Linked DNA regions of Homo sapiens: region 1 is linked to region 2. A link means that fine-mapping ties the variant in region 2 to the expression of a gene that starts in the linked region. Tissue or cell type: monocytes after Pam3CSK4. Region 2 holds a variant in brackets; the other region holds the start of a gene. All regions are shown on one strand. Distances are between the middles of the regions.

Region 1 (8,905 bases), 47 kb after region 2:
TCAGCCTTTTAATCTATGTAACTAAGTACTTTCTGGAAATATATGTTGAACCCTGTAAAAATCTCATTTTTCATTGAACTTTGAATGTACTCATTTATTATAATTTATATCTGTAATGAACACATGGTACCAGAATTATTCATTGGATTATAATCTGTTGCTATCATAATTTATTTTAGTGCTCAAGTTAGGCCATCTTTGGCCAGTGGGAGCTTTTTTCAGGTTGGTTCCTGTGTCCTTTTATTCTGTCTCCATCATTACTTTCATTATTTTCTGGGATAACAAGATGTTTCAGGCTCAACTTTTATTTGCCTTGTCCTAGTCCTGGAATCAGCCATTTTTCCAAGGAGCCCTGGTTTCTTTTAGTAAAAAGTTAAAATATGGATGCAAGATATGCTCATTGCTTTTGGGGTGTCATTGTTCCCAGGCCCTCTTAGAATACAAATGTAGAAAATATTTGTGTGTGTGTGTGTGTGTGTGTGTGTGTGTGTGTGTATGCAGCAGAGGTTTACATCTACATTTATTTATATACTATATATATATGTTAAAAACTTTTGAGTTCATATCAACACCACCAATTTCATTATAACAACACAAGACTCATTCAAGTTTTCTCTTTCCATTCTTGTAACTTCTTCAACAGTGACTAATGTGGTTCTCATTATCATTCATATATTCACTTATTGGATCACTTGTCTCTACAAGTAACTAATTTCCCATTTCTGCCATCACCAGTCCACCAAGCAAACCCTTCCTTGAACACACCTGGGTCCCACTGCCTTGCACCTGGCCGTCTTTCTCACTACCTCCCACCCCTTGTGGGGTGAGGAGGGCATTTTAAAAGATGACCATGATACCTGAACTCTCTTCTTTACTCCTTCCTCTGCCTTGTAACCTGGAACATAGACGTAATGATTGAAGCTTGAGCCACTCTCTGGACTATGAGGATAAGGGTCACACCTACAAACATCAGAGCAGTGAGCTGTGAAGTGCCTGAATTTCTGACCCTTTGGCAGAGCAAACTAGCCATATTAACCCTGCCCTGCCCACTGTCTAGACTTTTACATGACAGCCATATAACATGAATCTTTAAATCTTATTAGTTTAGGTAACAGCCAAATGTAATTCTACTTGATAAAGATGTCCACAGCTAGAGGCCAGCGGGAACACAGATACATCTACTAATTCCAGGAGGGAGTGATGAGAACCTTTATCACCAAGATGAGGGAGCACAACAGCCTGTTAGAAGTCAGAATCCAGCTTAGCAAAAAGAGGGTCAGGCAAGACCAATGAATTGATTGGGACTATGTATTCTACTACTGGAGGCAGAAACTTAGTTCATTTCAGAAAATCAAATAAACATTTCTTGCACTACTGAGCTCTGGATCTGAGATGGGCTCTATGAAGAAAGTAGCTGAAACTATGGTAATGGCAATGGCAATGGATGAGGTCCAGGGAGTTTCCAGTGGAAGAAAAAATGAACCTTAAAAATCTCAAACATTAACTATTAGAAAGGAAGCAGCCAGGGGATATTAAGAGTAAGAGAGAATTAAAGGAGAACTTCTGAACAAGACTTTTTTATATCCCTTAGGGAATTAATTACCAACATTAAAGTGCATTTCGTATCATTACCTTTCATATTGTTACATTCCACATCCAATTTTGATCCCAGGGGGTGATATTTTAAAAACTAGAAACAATTTCTGCATCACAGTGAAATCTATAGGCAGAGTTAAAGAGGTTTACGTATACAGACTACTAGAAAGTCTAGACCAGGTTTACTGGTTTTCATTCATTTCTTGCTTCTTAATCAGTTTGGAGGCTCATGTAAAGGCAGATTTGAAGGGAGAAAAGACTCAAGAACAAGAGATAGAAGGGGTGATGCTATTGGAGGTTGCTAGAATTGCCTGGATTTTGGCTTGGGATGATCCCTAGCACAGGTATGAGGCACAGAATCAATTGTTATGCACCATGTCACATTCTTCACACGTGCCTCACATGGTTATACACACACTCAAACCAAATCAACATGAACCTAATTGAAGGCAGCCTAGGTAGACAAAACGCCTTCATGAGAGTTCTGCGCAGTTGAGTGATATGTAGAGGAGTTCTTCATTCTAAACAGCTTTCTCAGTGGTGGTTGGTTATTGGACCACCAGCTGATATCACCATCCCGATTTGAGCTTCCTTTAATTTCAGGTGCCCCTCCTAGCTGTTGACCGGGATACAATAATTACTCTAGTTCATCTTGTATTGGTAGCTGTTTAATTCTTCATGATTTCATATTCGGAAAGACAGAATAAGAAATCATGAGTCAAATCAGTGGTCTTTAGAAGTATCATCACTAATACCTATTGGATACATCAAATGGCCAATTTGCTTTACTTTATAATCCCTTGGGGATTTACTGATTTTTTTTTTTTTAATTACCAGTTTTAGGCTGTGTATACTTCTCATATATTCATTAAATTTTAGTAGCAGTAACGGAAGCTGTTTTTACACGTTTGTAATTGTGCCCTGAAATGACACTGAATTAACTTAAATTCAAATGACTTAACTAACTTAAAATTAAACATAAAAATGTGTATCATGAGAGATGAGGGAAATATTCGCAAAATAGAAGGGCACACAATATTTTCAGATTATTTTATTCTTAACCCACAAATCCCACAGATATGTGACAACTTAAAAAACAAATTAATGCTCTCATGGCTTTTTCGATTTAGGTAAGCCAACAATTCCTGACCATTCTGTAATTTTGTAGTCATGTTTGATTAAGTGCCATCTCTTTCCCCCTAATACGGATAAAATCTGAATTGTGTATTAACAGAATTTTGATACATATTATATGAATGAAATGGATCCTACCAATCATAAAGTACGACAATTGAGGTGGAGTCTTGTTCTGTCGCCCAGGCTGGAGTGCAACGGCGCAATCTTGGCTCACTGTAACCTCCTCCTCCCAAGCTCAAGCGATTCCCTTGCCTCAGCCACCCAAGCAGCTGGGACTCCAGGCGCCCGCCACCACGCCCAGCTAATTTTTGTGTTTTTAGTAGAGACAGGGTTTTACTATGTTGGCCAGGTTGGGCTCGAACTCCTGACCTAAGGTGATTCACCGCCTTAGGTTTCCCAAAGTGCTGGGATTACAGGCGTGAGCCACCGCGCCCGGCCAAGTACGAGAAAAATCTTACGTAACAAACCAGTAATATGGGCTATAGCCTTGTTCCCACGTAGCATCTTAAACTGTTAAAAATAAATCAGAGTTATTCTGAAATCATTGAGGAAAATAAAAATTAGATTTTGAGATTGCAGAATTCTGCAAATTTCTGCAAATGTATAAAAACAACATGATATAAATTGTGGCCTGGGTGTTCATAATTCTCCCCAGACTCTTTTATGGATGCCTTATTTGGTGGAGGTCTTCCTGTAATTATGGAATTATAAAGCCCATCAGACAGGAATATTAAAAAGCATGATTATTCCATAACCTTATTCCACAGGAGGAGTTATTCCACAGGAGGAGTTATTCTACAGGAGGTCCTAGTTCACTTTATTTTTCCCTCTTCGTCACTGCCTTCTGGTGGTGCTGCGGATCAACGCCCAGCTAAAGCAGGTTTAGAGGGTCAGCCTGGAGATTGGATTGTTACTGGTGGGATTTAAAGATGGACAGACCATAGGACAACAAATAGCTTAGGAACTGGCACTGTTTACAAATCCTAGGGAGAGAATTTCAGATCCCGAGTCCAAGACTGCTGCGATCCCTCCAGGCCTCCCCATTTGCTGCCACGCTCAGGCTTTCCCTGGCGGTCCCCAGGTCCAGCTTCTTATGGGAATGACACCCTTAACCGACAAGAAAGCGCTATGATTTTCCGTTTGGGATTTAAGCGGGGATTAAGCTCACGGATTCCCAGGCGTCTAGTCAGAGGCCGAACTCTGGGTCGGATCTCAGCGAGACTTGTTGCTGAGGAACACTGCAGCTTGGCTTCCCGGCGCTTCCCGGCGCTCCCTGGCTCCCCGGCGGGCCCGTCAACCACCCACCTCCCGGGAAGGGACCGAGGGCGCGCCCCGCCACGCGCGCTCCCCACGCCATGGTCCCCGCCGCGCGCGCTCATCCCACCCGAGCCCCGCCGCACGCCCTCCCCACTCCCCGAGCCCCGCCACGCGCGCCCCCGCCCAGCCCCAGGAGCGCGCGCCGCCGGCCTTTTCCCGCCGCGCTGCCGGGTGCCGCTAGTGCCCGCTCGCCGCGGGAGGCGCTGCTGTCGCTGAGGGAGCGCCTCCTCCTCTTCCTCCAACTCTTCCCCGCCTCCTCCCGCTTCTCCTCCTCCTCCTCCACAGTTGCCTGCCCTGGGCGGGGGCGAGCGCGTCCGGTTTGCTGGAAGCGTTCGGAAATGGCAACTTGCGCGGTGGAGGTGTTCGGGCTCCTGGAGGACGAGGTGCGGGGACCGCGGGGCTGCGGGGCGGGCTTCCCTTCGGGTTATTCAGCAGCCGGACCCGGGGAGGTAGCGGCGGCGGCCACGACCGGAGGCTCTGCTGTCAGCCCCTCCTCCCTCGGCGCGAGCCTGGGGAGCGCGCGAGGCGCCGCGGGGACTGTGGGGGCGGCTCGGCGCGCGGGCGCTGGGGGCTCGCTGGAGGGAGCAAGCTTGTCGGGTCCACACCCGCCCCTTCCCGGAGCGGCCGCCGCCTTACTTGTCAGTTTCCTTCAGGAAGTGTTGAGGAGGGGGCTAGGCGGTCGGCGGGGGACCCACATCACCGCGCCAGCCCCTTCCTGCCACCCCCGCCGGGTGTGCGGAGCTCCCAGGCGTTGGGAGACGGTCGCAGCATCCCCGCTGTTGATTTGCTTGCTCTGGCGGAGGCCGGGCCGACTTAACTTTACGGACTTCGGTCTGGAGAGTTCCAAGTGAATTGTCATTCGCTGGTTTGTTTTTTTCTTCTTTATCTGAAATCCTTTTTAATCCCCTAACTAGAGACAGGGATGGGAGAGCAGGAACATAAATTTTCCTCCTCCTCTTTAGCAACAAGTGTCTAGTGTGAGAAGTTCATGCTTTATTTCACCGGTCGTCGTTGATGTTAAAAAGTGAAGCCAAAAAAGTATAAATACTTTATAAAGAAGTTACCACATCTGTTCCCTTTGAAAACTAGATTAAGCTCTGGGATTTGAAGAAGGCAAAGCTGTTTCTTTTCAGCTAAATAACTAATGCTGATTATGCCTATGCTTATTAAAAATATTGTACGACCATTTGGAAAGGTTGTTCCGTCGTAAATGATATGTGGCTTCTGTGTGTTCTTGGAGATTGTCTCAAAAATGCAAATGGGTGGGAGATGAAAAGGCTGCATGTAGTCTAACAGTGACTGGTTCCGAGTGAAAAAAATCAAGTTTTTTGCTTTCTTGTTGGCTGACTAAGCTGCCACATGTACCTTTTATCAAGATGAGACCCAGTTAACTGAAAATCCATCAACCTAATTTATACTGCTTGCTTAAGTATTGTAATATTTAAGTTGTATAGTTCCTTCTCTTAGTACCTTGGTGTCGTCAAACATTTTACACTTCTCTTGAGAGTTCTTTGTTTATAAAGGGTGGGCAATTTGTTAATGCAGTTATTTCAGGATATTTTGAGAATGCTTACGTGATGCGATTAGAATTTAATTTCCTAGCTATTGCTGCCAGAAGAGAAATAAAGTGATGATGGACAAATGGTGGCGGCTCATAGTCCCTCAGAAACAATAGTCAATGTGTTACAGCTAAAGATATCATTCTAGCTAATGGCACCTTTATTCTGTAGACGAGATCAGAAGATAATACAGCACTTCACCTGTGGTCGCTTTCTTATCAGTCAGATTTCCCTGCTTGCTACGTAGACTGCCCAGTGCAGTTGACTTCAAGGTGGTGTCCAACCCAATCAGGCTGACCTTGGACTTTCTTTCCCTGCTATATTCACAGGTAGGCCCTGCTAATTGCAGATTTCTCATCTCACCGCCTTCCAGCAGAGCCAGTTGATCTTAAAGAAAATAGTGCCAAAGGTATCATTCACCATCTGTTTTCTCCCTCTTGGTACATGATCAGTGTTTTTAATTATCTACTTTAGTAATTTCTCTGTTTTCAATCATCACCCCTCTGCCCAGCTGAAATAAAACTAATTGTGGCAGTTAATGGGTGGTCGGTAAGGAACTGGGGCCAAAGGCCAGAAACTCCACCCTTTGAAATGTGGATTTCCTGAACTTGCTGAAGGATTTGTACTTCTAGGAAGTTTCATGGACTGTGGCCTATCCCATTCACATTCTGGGAGTTCTGGCTGTCAGTTCCATGACTCTAATTTGCTTCTGTCCCCGCTCTATTTTGTCCACATTGAGGAAGGGAGTGAGATAGGAAGATAAGAGACATGATGATGAAGAGTCTTCCACTTCTTCCATTGTAATTGGATTATTCATTCAACAGACATTCATTTACTGTTTGCTCTGTACCATGCATTGTGCTAGGCACCAGGGATAGAGAGGGAAAAAAGACAGTCTCAGCCTCGGACTGAGGGAAAGATAAAAGTCACTTTTTTTCTTGTGGAGGTTGCCCTCTCCACTATCATTTGCCATTTATTTTCTGGTCTATCACAAAAGTAAAAGAAGGATTGAAACCACACTCCCCCATCCTCCCCACCCCCAAACACCCCTTTTGTTAAAGGAAGAAAGCATTGCAGCTATGTCACTTCTAAAACTCACAGACTAGTCTGGAAATAGGCAGCCCTCTGCTGTTGATTAAAAGTAAAGTGCTTTTTCATTACAACAAAAGGAGAGGATTCTTATTTTAAATTTGAAACTAAAACAGGGAGAAAAATAATTTGAAATGGGATAGAAGATAGTGAAAGAATTGTAATTTAATCAGTATATAGTGAATAGTCGCTGAGTCAGTGTCTGAGCATATTAGCACTGAAGTATGCTAAAATGTAGATCATAATACCTTTCTCTCACTTTTCAGTGAGTTTTGGCTCTTCTTCCACATATAAGTGACTTATAGTAAGAGATCACCCTGGCTGCATGTGCAGGATTTTACCTTTAAAGTGTTAACAAACAAAGGAGGAAGTGTAGTATAATTTATACCAGATTTGCTCTGGTCACTTGAGATTCACAGTAGAGAATAACATGCACTGATCTTTATTGGAGAGCAGTGTGGTGGATGCGGGGACTGGAATTGAGCATCACTTCCCACCTCCTTCCCATGCACCTCCCTGTGATATGGAGGTGGGAAAACTAAACACTGTTTCCCACACTCCATTGAAATTAATGGACTGGATCCAAAGTAGGCTCCCCAGTTAAGTGCACTTACTTGAGATTTGCAGAGTGGAAATGAGGTGGAGCATATTGTTTTGTTTCTTTGGCTTTTTCTGCTGATAAGCACAGTCATGTAAACATCTAAATTTTCTGCGAAAGTATTCCAGTATCTGGTAACTTGCTTTGTACATATTGATAGGAAGTCACCGAAGTAGTGGTGGTAGTGGCTTCCAGACGTCAAGATTGATTATATTCTTGAAGTCATCAGTTCTGGTGATGACTCCTGATCATCTACCTTTCTGACTGGGAGAGGTAGTAGCTTCCTGGATGGGTCAGTTCTGCCATGTTTCTGATCTTCTAGAACTGCAGTCCCCAACTGTTTTGGCACCAGGGACCGGTTTCATGGAAGATAGTTTTTCCATGGACCGGGGATGCGGTCCAGTGGTTTCAGGATGATTCAAGCACATTACATGTATGGTGCACTCTACTTCTATTATGATTACATTGTGATATGTAATGAAGTAATTATACAGCTCACCGTAATGTAGAATTAGTGGGAGCCCTGAGCTTGTTTTCCTGCAACTAGATGGTCCCAAGTGTGGGTGACGGTAATGGGAGACAGGGAGACAGTGACAAATCATCAGGCATTAGATTCTTATAAGGGGTACACAACCTAGATCGCTTGCATGGACAGTTCACAATAGGGTTCATGCTCTTATGAGAATCTAATGCCGCTGCTGATCTGACAGGCAGCAGAGCTCCGGAGGTAATGTGATCGGTGAGGAGTGGCTGTAAATACAGATGAAGCTTTGCTCACTGGCCTGCCACTCACCTCCTGCTGTGTGGCTGGTTCCTAAGGTTGGGGACCCCTGCTCTAGAAGTCCAGCCTAGCACCTACTCTTCCAGCTCTTCCAAAAATTTTGTAAGCATCTAATCCCCTGTATTAGCTTCTTTCTTCTTAAAGCATCTAGAATGATTTCTGTTTCCTATAAGAAAGGCTGACTGAAGCAAGGAAAAGAAGGAAGGAAATAAAGAGGAAAGAGTTCAGAGTCTCCGCTATCGGTATGGAGAGTGCAGTTTGCACATACAGAATAATAGATGCCCCTGGTGGCAGCAGCCACAACAGTGCATAAGTAGCAGGGTAAGAAGGGCATATTCTGATACTTCTGGACCCACTAAGGCTGAGCAGAAACTGACCCTTACTCAGTCTGGGAACAAACTTCCCAAACCTTTATGTACTACACACAAAGGAGGAGAAGCATAGGTTAAGCAGCAGCTGTATTAGTAATTTCTCCCAATCTTTCATGTATTGTTTTTGCCATTAGTGCTTTTTTGCAACTCTTTAATTCCAGGATCATTGTAAAGTATTTTTCATGGAGCAGGGACTAAAGAAGTGAATAAATATAGTGTATTTTTAAAATAATTTATTTTTAAATTATGTATTTACTTTTGAGACGGAGTCTTGCTCTGTCACACAGGCTGGAGTGCAATGGCGTGATCTCAGCTCACTGCACCCTCTGCCTACCAGGTTCCAGCGATTTTCCTGCATCACCCTCCAGGGTAGCTGGGATTATAGGCACGCACCACCACGCCCAGCTAATTTTTGTATTTTTGGTAGAGATGGGGTTTTACCATGTTGGCCAGGCTG
Region 2 (8,905 bases):
AATTGCTAGACCTGGAGATTTCCTCATGACATTTAGTTATTTCTTCTGGTTTAAGATCATTTATAGTCTGGATCTTATTAAAGAGAATCACTACTTGAACTGGGAAATCACTTTTATAGGGAAAGACAAGAATGTATTAGTCATTGAACTAAAACTTGTTTTGGTAAATTTATGAGGAAGTGGAATACCTTTAAGACTTTCTTTGCTTAGCAGCTTGTTTCTTCAGATCTCCACTTAGGTCATAATATTTAGTTACTTCTTTAGAAGAAGACTCTAGAGAGAACTCCGTGTTGCCTCAAAGGAGTCTTTAAATAATCCATATTACTCTTTCTACTGAATAATCAGATAATTAAGCCTGACCTATATCTCCTGACCAGGCAGATTTTCTCTATTTAATATCTGTAACTGGTCTTGATTTCTGCCAGGGGCATTAACTAATATTGATGAACAGATAATTTGTTTTAAAAATAGGTTTAAAGAGTCTTTTCACCGTGCATAATTAATGAGGAAGTTATTTTTTGTTTGTGGGGTATTCCACAGTTTATCTCCTCAGAATACATCTCAACAACATTCTTAAATAACGAAGCACTTGCTTTTCAATTTCTGGAAAGGTAATAGCCATTTACTGCAAAGGTATCCCAGCTCATATACAGAGAGTGATGCGTCTACAGAAAGACAGCCTTCCCACTTCCCTTCTGGGGTTCTAATGTCTTCCTGGAATTTCCTCCCTGGAAATCTCTGTTTTCCCTGAAAGAGTTAACTTTCAGGAAGCATCCTGAAAGAAAACAATATGGTTCCTTTTGGAAGGGAACAGAGTTATTTATGACATGTTTAAAGTATGCAACCTCTAAAGTATTAATTGAAAAGTCAATAATCTAACGTACTACTATCACGTCACTTTCAAAGTAATAACTCGTCCATAATGTTTTAAAAACTCATATAACCATCAAAAGTATGTAATAAAACACAGTATTCCTCTGCTTTCTTCATCTTCTTGTTCTGCTCCTTAGAGGTAACTATTTTCAATTTTGTCATGTTCTAGCATTTACCCTCATATTTCTAAATATGCAACTTTGCTATTTATTCACCAATTTTAGAAATTATCCAAGTTATCTATTATCATGGTAGAGGAGGAGTTACACTCCCTTAGCTTCCCCAATCCATCCTTCCAATGCAGTTTTTTCATAAATTTTGGTAAATTCATTTTCAGTGTTTTTCATTGCTATGACTGTATATATATTTACATCTAAATCAAGAAGTGTGAATGAATAGTACACTCCAGGGAAATCAGGTGGCCAGCTGGCTTTTTCTTCATGTAGCCCCAAAGGTCAATGCGTTACTGGTCGAGGGTGTCCAGGTTCTTGGCATCTTCCACAAAGAATTGGACACAATGCACAAACAAAGCAAGAAAAGAATGAAGCAGCAAAACCAGAGATTTACTGAAAACGAAAGTACACTCCACAGAGATGGAGCGTCCCAAGCACAGGAGCTGAAGAGCCTAGTTACATAATTTTCTGGGTTTAAATATTCACTAGAGGTTTTCCATTGGCCACTTGGTGTATACCTCATGCAAATGAAGTAGTGGCCCACATCAGTCTGATTGGTTGCAGAAAGCAATCAATCAAAGGCTGAAGTGAAGTTAAACGGTTACACTCTATGCAAACATCTGATTGGTTGTGGAAAACAACCAATCACAGGCTAAAGTGAAGTTACAAAGTTATACTTCTATGCAAATGAAGACTTGGCTACCAATCAGTCTGATTGTGGAAAGCAACCAATCAGAAGTATTTTAAATTTTCCATCTGCCATGCAGGAAAGAGGGGGTGGTTTGCAAAGGGAGTAGCCTGTGGTCTCTTTGTTACTTAGATGTGGAAAGTCGGGGTTTTCCTTTTGATACAGTTCTAGGAAGTCAGTGGGAATTGGCCTTAGGTTCCCTACCTCCAGACCCTATTTTCTTGCGTCAAATGTCTCTAGAGAGACGCTGTATTTTTTCTGAGGTGGTTCATCTCCCCACATCCTGCTTGTGGTTGTATGATTGGTTATTGTTATTCTGAAATTCAGTAGGGGAACTTGAAAAAGGCTTTACAATTTCAAATGCAGATCACTGACTCTGTTTCAAATGGGTCATCTCATCTTCACTCTTCTCTATTCCTAGTTCAGTTTCAAAGTATCTCCTCCACTACTAGTACTGGGAAGACGTAGGACCTGACTCCTTACAGTGTGGATAGTAACCTGGGAATCTAACTGTTGCTTATACAGGCTTTCAAACAGTCCCTCGACTTTGCTTTTTACACACTGTGGCACCAAACCTTTATAGACTCCAATGGGGATGACACCAGGTTCAAGAGGCCAAAGAAGAGACCCAGAGCCAGCAAACAAGACATGGGGTTGTACTGGGGGCTAAACACAGGGGAGAGCCCAGTGGTGGTGGGCGGAACAGGAGAACCCCACGACCCAGGGGCAGTAGGCTGAGCAGAAGAATCACAACCACTTGCAAAAAGCATGCAGGTTTTACAGCATTTTCACTTAGCCCCTGCCTCCTAATAAGCTCCACCTGGAAACTTGCATTTAAACCAAAACAAATGGCCTCAATCCTCTGTACAGCTCACATTCCACAGGACAGGATGGGGCCTAGATGTTCCTTATAGATAAGGAATGAATCTCTGCGTTGTCCTCTCCCACATTCCTTAGCTTGGAACTCTGAACCGCATTCAGGTGCACCTGCTATACAGGGTCATTCTCAGGGTATGCGTAAATTATTGCTATCAGGTGCATTTAACACACATACACACAAACACAGAGACACACACACACACACACACATTGACACACACAACCCTACCTTCTGAGATACTTGGCACTTCCAATTCATGAGCATTTTCAGGATTCTGTGGGACGAATCAGCTAATTCCTATTAGTATCCTCATTTATGGGTACTCTTAAATTGTTAAGTCTACTGATTACATTTAAAATGTACTGGGTAGAGGGAGAGGTGGGAGAAATAGGAATTTATCTTCAAATAAGCAATAAAGCATCAATTGTGTTGGGTTCATTGCATATCTGTGATTATAAATAGACTTTTAATTTGTCTATAGAGTTCTGTCTATCCTCCATGAGCTTGGCGTGACAAGTCTGGTTTTGTTTTGTTTTGTTTACCTTGACAGATAAGAAAGGAATCTTGAAGCAGCACTTGCCTTGTGTCAGGGGATTTAACAGGACAGGTCTGGGCCCCTGAACTACAGGTGATGTTAAAGAACCATGACTTTAATCTTTAAAATATTCTACAATTGCAGGAACATGTGAGAGCAAGAGTTGAACTCTGTGTCTCAAAAGTAACAAAAGGTCTCACATTTCATCCCTGGCCAGAAGGAGTTAGAAATGCCTGTTCTGGGCACCTTGCATCCAGGCAGTAAGTTTGAACCATCAATCTGTACTGGATCTGTGTTTCTTCCCTTCATGGTGTGGTTGGGATTGGTGTAGCTGTCAGGTGGAACTGTTACACCAAAATGTCCAGGGCTTAATGGAATCCATCATTAATATGGTCTCAAAGATTTTTACATATTTATAGTTTTCTCCATTCCTACATGATGACAGAATGTGAAGGATGTATTCACTTTTTGTGTCACAGCTAAAGATAATTATCAAGCTAATATATTCCTTGCCTGTTTATTTTTTCTTTAAAGAAAGGGTCTCGATCTGCTGCCCAGGATGGAGTGCAGTAGTACAATCATAGCTCACTGCAGCCTCAAACTCCTGGCTCAAGAGATCCTGCCACCTCAGCCTCTCAAGTAGCTGGGACTATAGGCATGCATCACCACACCCAGCTAATTTTTTTAAATTTTTTGTAGAGATGGGGTCTTGCTATGTCGTTGCCTAAGCTGATCTTGAACTCCTGGCCTCAAGCAATCCTTCTACCTTGGTCTATTTATATAAATATTGGTATTATATCCAGAACAAAATAATGGGGTATAAAAATGATTAAGACTTGACCATTTGCTATTATCTGAAAATAATCTTAACACACTAAATAATAAATAACTATATCCCACTCCTTAAATCCTAAAAAGCAGGGGTAGGGGAATCTTAAGTGGTGACCCTTTTCTGGTAAAACACTAAAAACCATCTTAAAATACTAAGAAAAATCTGAAACAATAGTAGAAAAATAAAAAATTCTACATATAATTTAAAGAAAGTTCTGATATGGAGGTTAAAACTGGATGACAGAGCCATTGACCACACTGAGGTGGCAACATCTTCAGTCACAGCTCACAGCAGTCGTGGGCTTTCCACGAGTGGGACTCCCTGGAAAACTTACACACAATCTGATCACTAAAAGCAAAGATCCTCAGGTATACATCTCAAAGAGAAGAGCCTTACATTTTCTCCTGTGTGACCTAAAGCAATGACATGGGATTTTTGCACCTCAGTTGCCTTATCTGAAAAAAATGGGATGCCTGCCTCCTAGGATTGTTTGACAATTAAGAGTAAAACTCTTAGATGAGTGCACAGCACAGTTTAACTGTTACCAATTAGTATTATTACCTCACACCTAAGGAAAGAAGGAAATAGACAAATGGGAAAAAAAAGGTGGGGGTGGTTAGAATTAGCTAAAGGTGATGCCCTAATCAAACAGCCCAGGGTCTCTCCCTTCTGGTCCTAAATTGTATTTCAATTCAGGAAATTCCAGGATTGCATCAGCCGAATGAGGTAACTGGCTTGTCATCTGAACACTTTGCCAGCACGTGATGCTATTATGTGAGCC[C/T]GCTGTTCCAACGTGAGTCACACATGTGAGCTGCAGCCACTTCTGCAGATGGAATAAAGTGTGTCAAGGTACAAGAACTGTACTTTCTCCTTTTTTTCTCACCTTGAACCTGAAAATCATGTGGGATTAATTTCCTAAGTATTTGCTCTACAGTTAACTCCAAATTATCCATGCTAGTGGAGGGAAAGAAAGACACAGATGGACATGAACAGTGACTGCTTCAAAAATGCCTTATAACTTGTGACTTTTGTAGTTAGAATTCTATATTGAGAATTGGTACCTAAATGTTCTGGAAACAAAACTTGAAGCAAAGTAAGTCTTGCTCGCCAGGCACGGTGACTCATGCCTGTAATCCCAGCACTTTGGGATAATGAGGCAGGTGGATGGCCTGAGCCCAGGAGTTCGAGACCATACTGGGCAAAATGGTGAAACCCTATCTCTACCAAAGAGATTTTTTTAAAAATTAGCTAGGCGTGGTGGCACATGCCTGTGGTCCTGGCTATTCAGGAGGCTGAGGTGGGAGGATCACTTGAGCTTGGGAGGTCAGGACTGCAGTGAGCCATGATAGTGCCACTGCACTCCAGCCTGGCCAACAGACTGAGACTGTCTCAAAAAAAATTAAATTAAAAAAATTTAAAATTAAAGTAAGTCTTGCTAGAAGACTGACCCCAGACAAACCAGAAAATTCATCCCAGACTTCATTCCATAACCTAGTACAAAACCATGCTGTTTTTCTCTTCTGAGGCAAGAGGAGCCATAGCATCTGATGGGGGACATTATCAGCCTAACTTGCATGGTTGCATTCTCATGCACTTCATGGGGAGAAGGAAGATAGTTAATCATTCCTGACAGCTGAATATAATTGTGACTAGAGCCTCAGTCTCTTTATCATTCTGAAGGTGGTATGCAATAGAAAGAAATAACAAAGAAAATGATGATATCACCTGAGAGTTTAAGTTATTTTTTAAAATTCATGAATAGTATAGTTTATGCAATACGTAGAAATCAGCTCTTCAGTAGACTGACCCTGGGAAAACTGGTTGGAGTTTTTTTGTTTTGTTTTGTTTACAAGGGTGGAGACAGCAAGGAAGGAAGGGAGAGAGAAATATCAGACTTACAATCAATGATACACACACACACACACACACACACACACACACACACACCAGTTTTATTGAGTTGTAATTACTTTTTGAGACAGGGCTGGAGTGCAGTGGCATGATTACAGCTCACTGCAGCCTTGAACTCCTGTTCTTAAGCAATCCTCCTGCCTCAGCCTGCAAAGTGCTGGAATTATAGGCATGAGCCACCATGCCTGGAGAGCTGTAATATTTTTTAGTGAACTCTACTATGTGGTAAAACTCTAAATCATGATTTTCAGTAAAGCCCACTGAAGCCAGTTCACCTACGAGATACTTTCTACAAAGTTTAACTCTTCAAGTATGCACACACTTTTTTAATGTATGAATTTAGAAATGATTGCCTAAACATTTTGTTTCTAAAATACAAGATGATGCACATATTCCATTTCATTATTTCTTTCTGCAGAACATAAATTCATGGTGAACGGAACCATAATGAATTATTTAGCCAAGCCAGTATTTTTGACTTGAGCTAAGATGACTGATATGGTTTGGCTCTATGTCACCACCAAAATCTCATGATGAATTGTAATCCCCAGTGTTGGGGGAAGGTGGGAGGTGATTGGATCATGGAGGTGGATTTCCCCCTTACTGTTCTCATGACAGTCAGTGAGTTCTCACGAGATCTGGATGTTTAAAAGTGTGTAGCACTTCCACCTTAGCACTTTCTCTCTCTCTTCCACCATGTGAAGATGTGCCTGCTTCCGCCATGACTGTAAGTTTCCTGAGGCCTCCCTAGCCATGCTTCCTGTATAGCCTGTGGAATGGTGAGTCAAGTCACTCTCTTTTCTTCGTAAATTACCCAGCCTCAAGTAGTTCTTTTTAGCAGTGTGAGAACAAACTAATACAATGACCATATTATCTCTAAGTACACACTTTGCTGTTGTCAGCCACAGAAATAAAACCAGGTTTAGGATGGAAGTCCCTGTTGGCACTCAGAAGCCATCTGAAGGCCAGTTTTCATTTTTTCTCTGCATTTTCAGCCTGTACAGCCTTTTCATTTTTTCAAAAAAGAGAAATATATGATAATGGTTGAAAACAGACTGCAAATATGTAATTCACTCTTCAGAAATAACTGTGTGTAAACTTTTATATTTTAATGCACATGTATAATTTGTTAATAAATGTAATCTGATAAAATAAAAACTTCAGGCAAATTAAATTTAAAGGAGTTTGAGCAATAAATGATTCATGAATCAGGCAGTCCCCAGAATCACAGCAGATTCATAGAGTTTCCAGTACAGCCACGTGGTGGAAGATTTATAGATTAAAAAACAGGAAGTGATGTACAGAAATTGGAAGTGAGGTACAGAAACAGCTGGATTGGTTACAGCTCGACATTTGCCTTACGTGAACACAGTTTGAACACTCAGCAGTGTATGAGTGGTTGAAGTATGGCTGTTGGGATTGGCCAAGACTCAGCTCTTGTTACAGGCACATGCTCCTAAGTTAGGTTTTCAATCTTGTCTACCTATTAAGTTAGATTACAGTTTGTCCACAAGGACTCAAATATAGAAGTACAGAGTCCTTCTCAGGCCATTTTTAGCTCAATTTAACAAATCATAATCAACAAATTAAGTAACCTAATTTTTTCACTTGCAGTGTATCATGGGCATCTTTCTTGTTAGAGCTGATAGAAACATCTCGCATATTAAGGGTTGAGTGGTTCTCAAACTTGACTGCACATTAGAATTACCTGGGGCACTTTAAAACAGTGCAAATACTGGGCCTCATTCTCAAACAGATAATCAGAACCTCTGAGGGTGGATCCTGGAATTACGAGTTTTTTAAGTGTTTCTGGATTCACAAGTGCAGTCAGGGTTGAGAATCACTTATCAATCTGATTATTTTTTAATCTGCATAGTATTATGCATGTATCATATTAACCCTCTCCTACTGATGGACACTTAAGTGGTTTTGAATTTTTCTACTACATGCAGTGCTGCAATTAACATTATTTTATATACATCTTTGCTTATTTGGCCTTAGGATAAATTCCCAAATGTGGAATATGCATATTTAAAATATTAATACATGTTACCAGATTCTTTTCCAGAATGATATATCCCAAAGTACCAGCCAACCAACTTTCCTACCCTGGGAATTGATATTTTTCATTTTTGTCAGTTTGGTGGATTGAAAACAATCCTCTTTCATTTGAATTTCTTTGCTTATTAGTGAGGTTGAGAAACTTATGAGCCATTATTCTGTCTCCTAAATTAACTCTAAATAGAGTCAAGTACAGACTAAAGTGAAAGTTCTAACTGGATTATTTATTTAGCAGGTAGAAGTTGGGGAGAACAGTAGCTCCAAAGAATCATGAAATTATAGTGTTGAAAGAAAACTTAGAGATATCTAGTTTAATTCTGAGTAATGTCGTGACTTGATTATTTTCCCATCCAAAGGTGAATGTTACTAACACTAGAAAATTCAGATGAAACAATAGTGAGGTGAGGAAAAGATATGGCAAAGGGGGAGAAAACCTAAACTGGGTAGGAAAGAAGATGAGAGCAAAGGAGAGGCTGGTACACAGAAAATAGAGAGAAAAGGTGAGTACTATCCTGTGGGTGACTACTGGGTAGGTCCTGCCAAGAAAGCAGGTGAGCCAGGTCTGTGTAGACAAGGGCAAGGGCCACGGGGACAAAACCATGGATAGGAGAGCGGCTTCTCTAGATCAGGGCAGCTGGACACTGCTGCCAGCAACAAACCAGCTGGAAGCTGTTTCCAGACAGACAGACCCGTGTTGGTGTACTGAGGAGAAGCCATGCGAGCACATCCCCCAACACAGGCTGAGGGCTCAAGTTCTCAGATAGGGGAGGTACAAGACAGCAGCCAACAGTAATTTTTTAAAAATGAAATCCAACCAGTACTGCTAGGTGTAGGGTGATGATTTCTGGTAGGTGTATGTTTGGAGCCAGAGAGAGGAGTCGCCTCATAGATATATTAATCAGAACTGATTCTCAGGACAGTCTGGCATCTCCTCTTTTTAAAGACTATCATA

Evidence for each region. PIP is the estimated chance that this variant, and not a neighbour inherited with it, causes the effect.
Region 1: NEDD4 starts here. The variant in region 2 is fine-mapped to the expression of NEDD4 in monocytes after Pam3CSK4 (Quach 2016, PIP 0.95).

The regions. Positions count from the first base shown.
Region 1 is chr15:55,989,039-55,997,943 of GRCh38, reverse strand. NEDD4 (NEDD4 E3 ubiquitin protein ligase) reads left to right here and starts at 4,332. Exons shown (of 29, transcript NM_006154.4): 1 at 4,332-4,433. The coding sequence starts at 4,389. RefSeq lists silencers at 3,126-3,323, 4,110-4,209, 4,450-4,799 and an enhancer at 4,302-5,084.
Region 2 is chr15:56,036,500-56,045,404 of GRCh38, reverse strand. No RefSeq gene overlaps it. Among named protein-coding and RNA genes, the nearest start is that of NEDD4, 47 kb to the right of the region's middle. RefSeq lists an enhancer at 4,040-5,239. The variant C/T (reference allele first, on the strand shown) is at 4,763.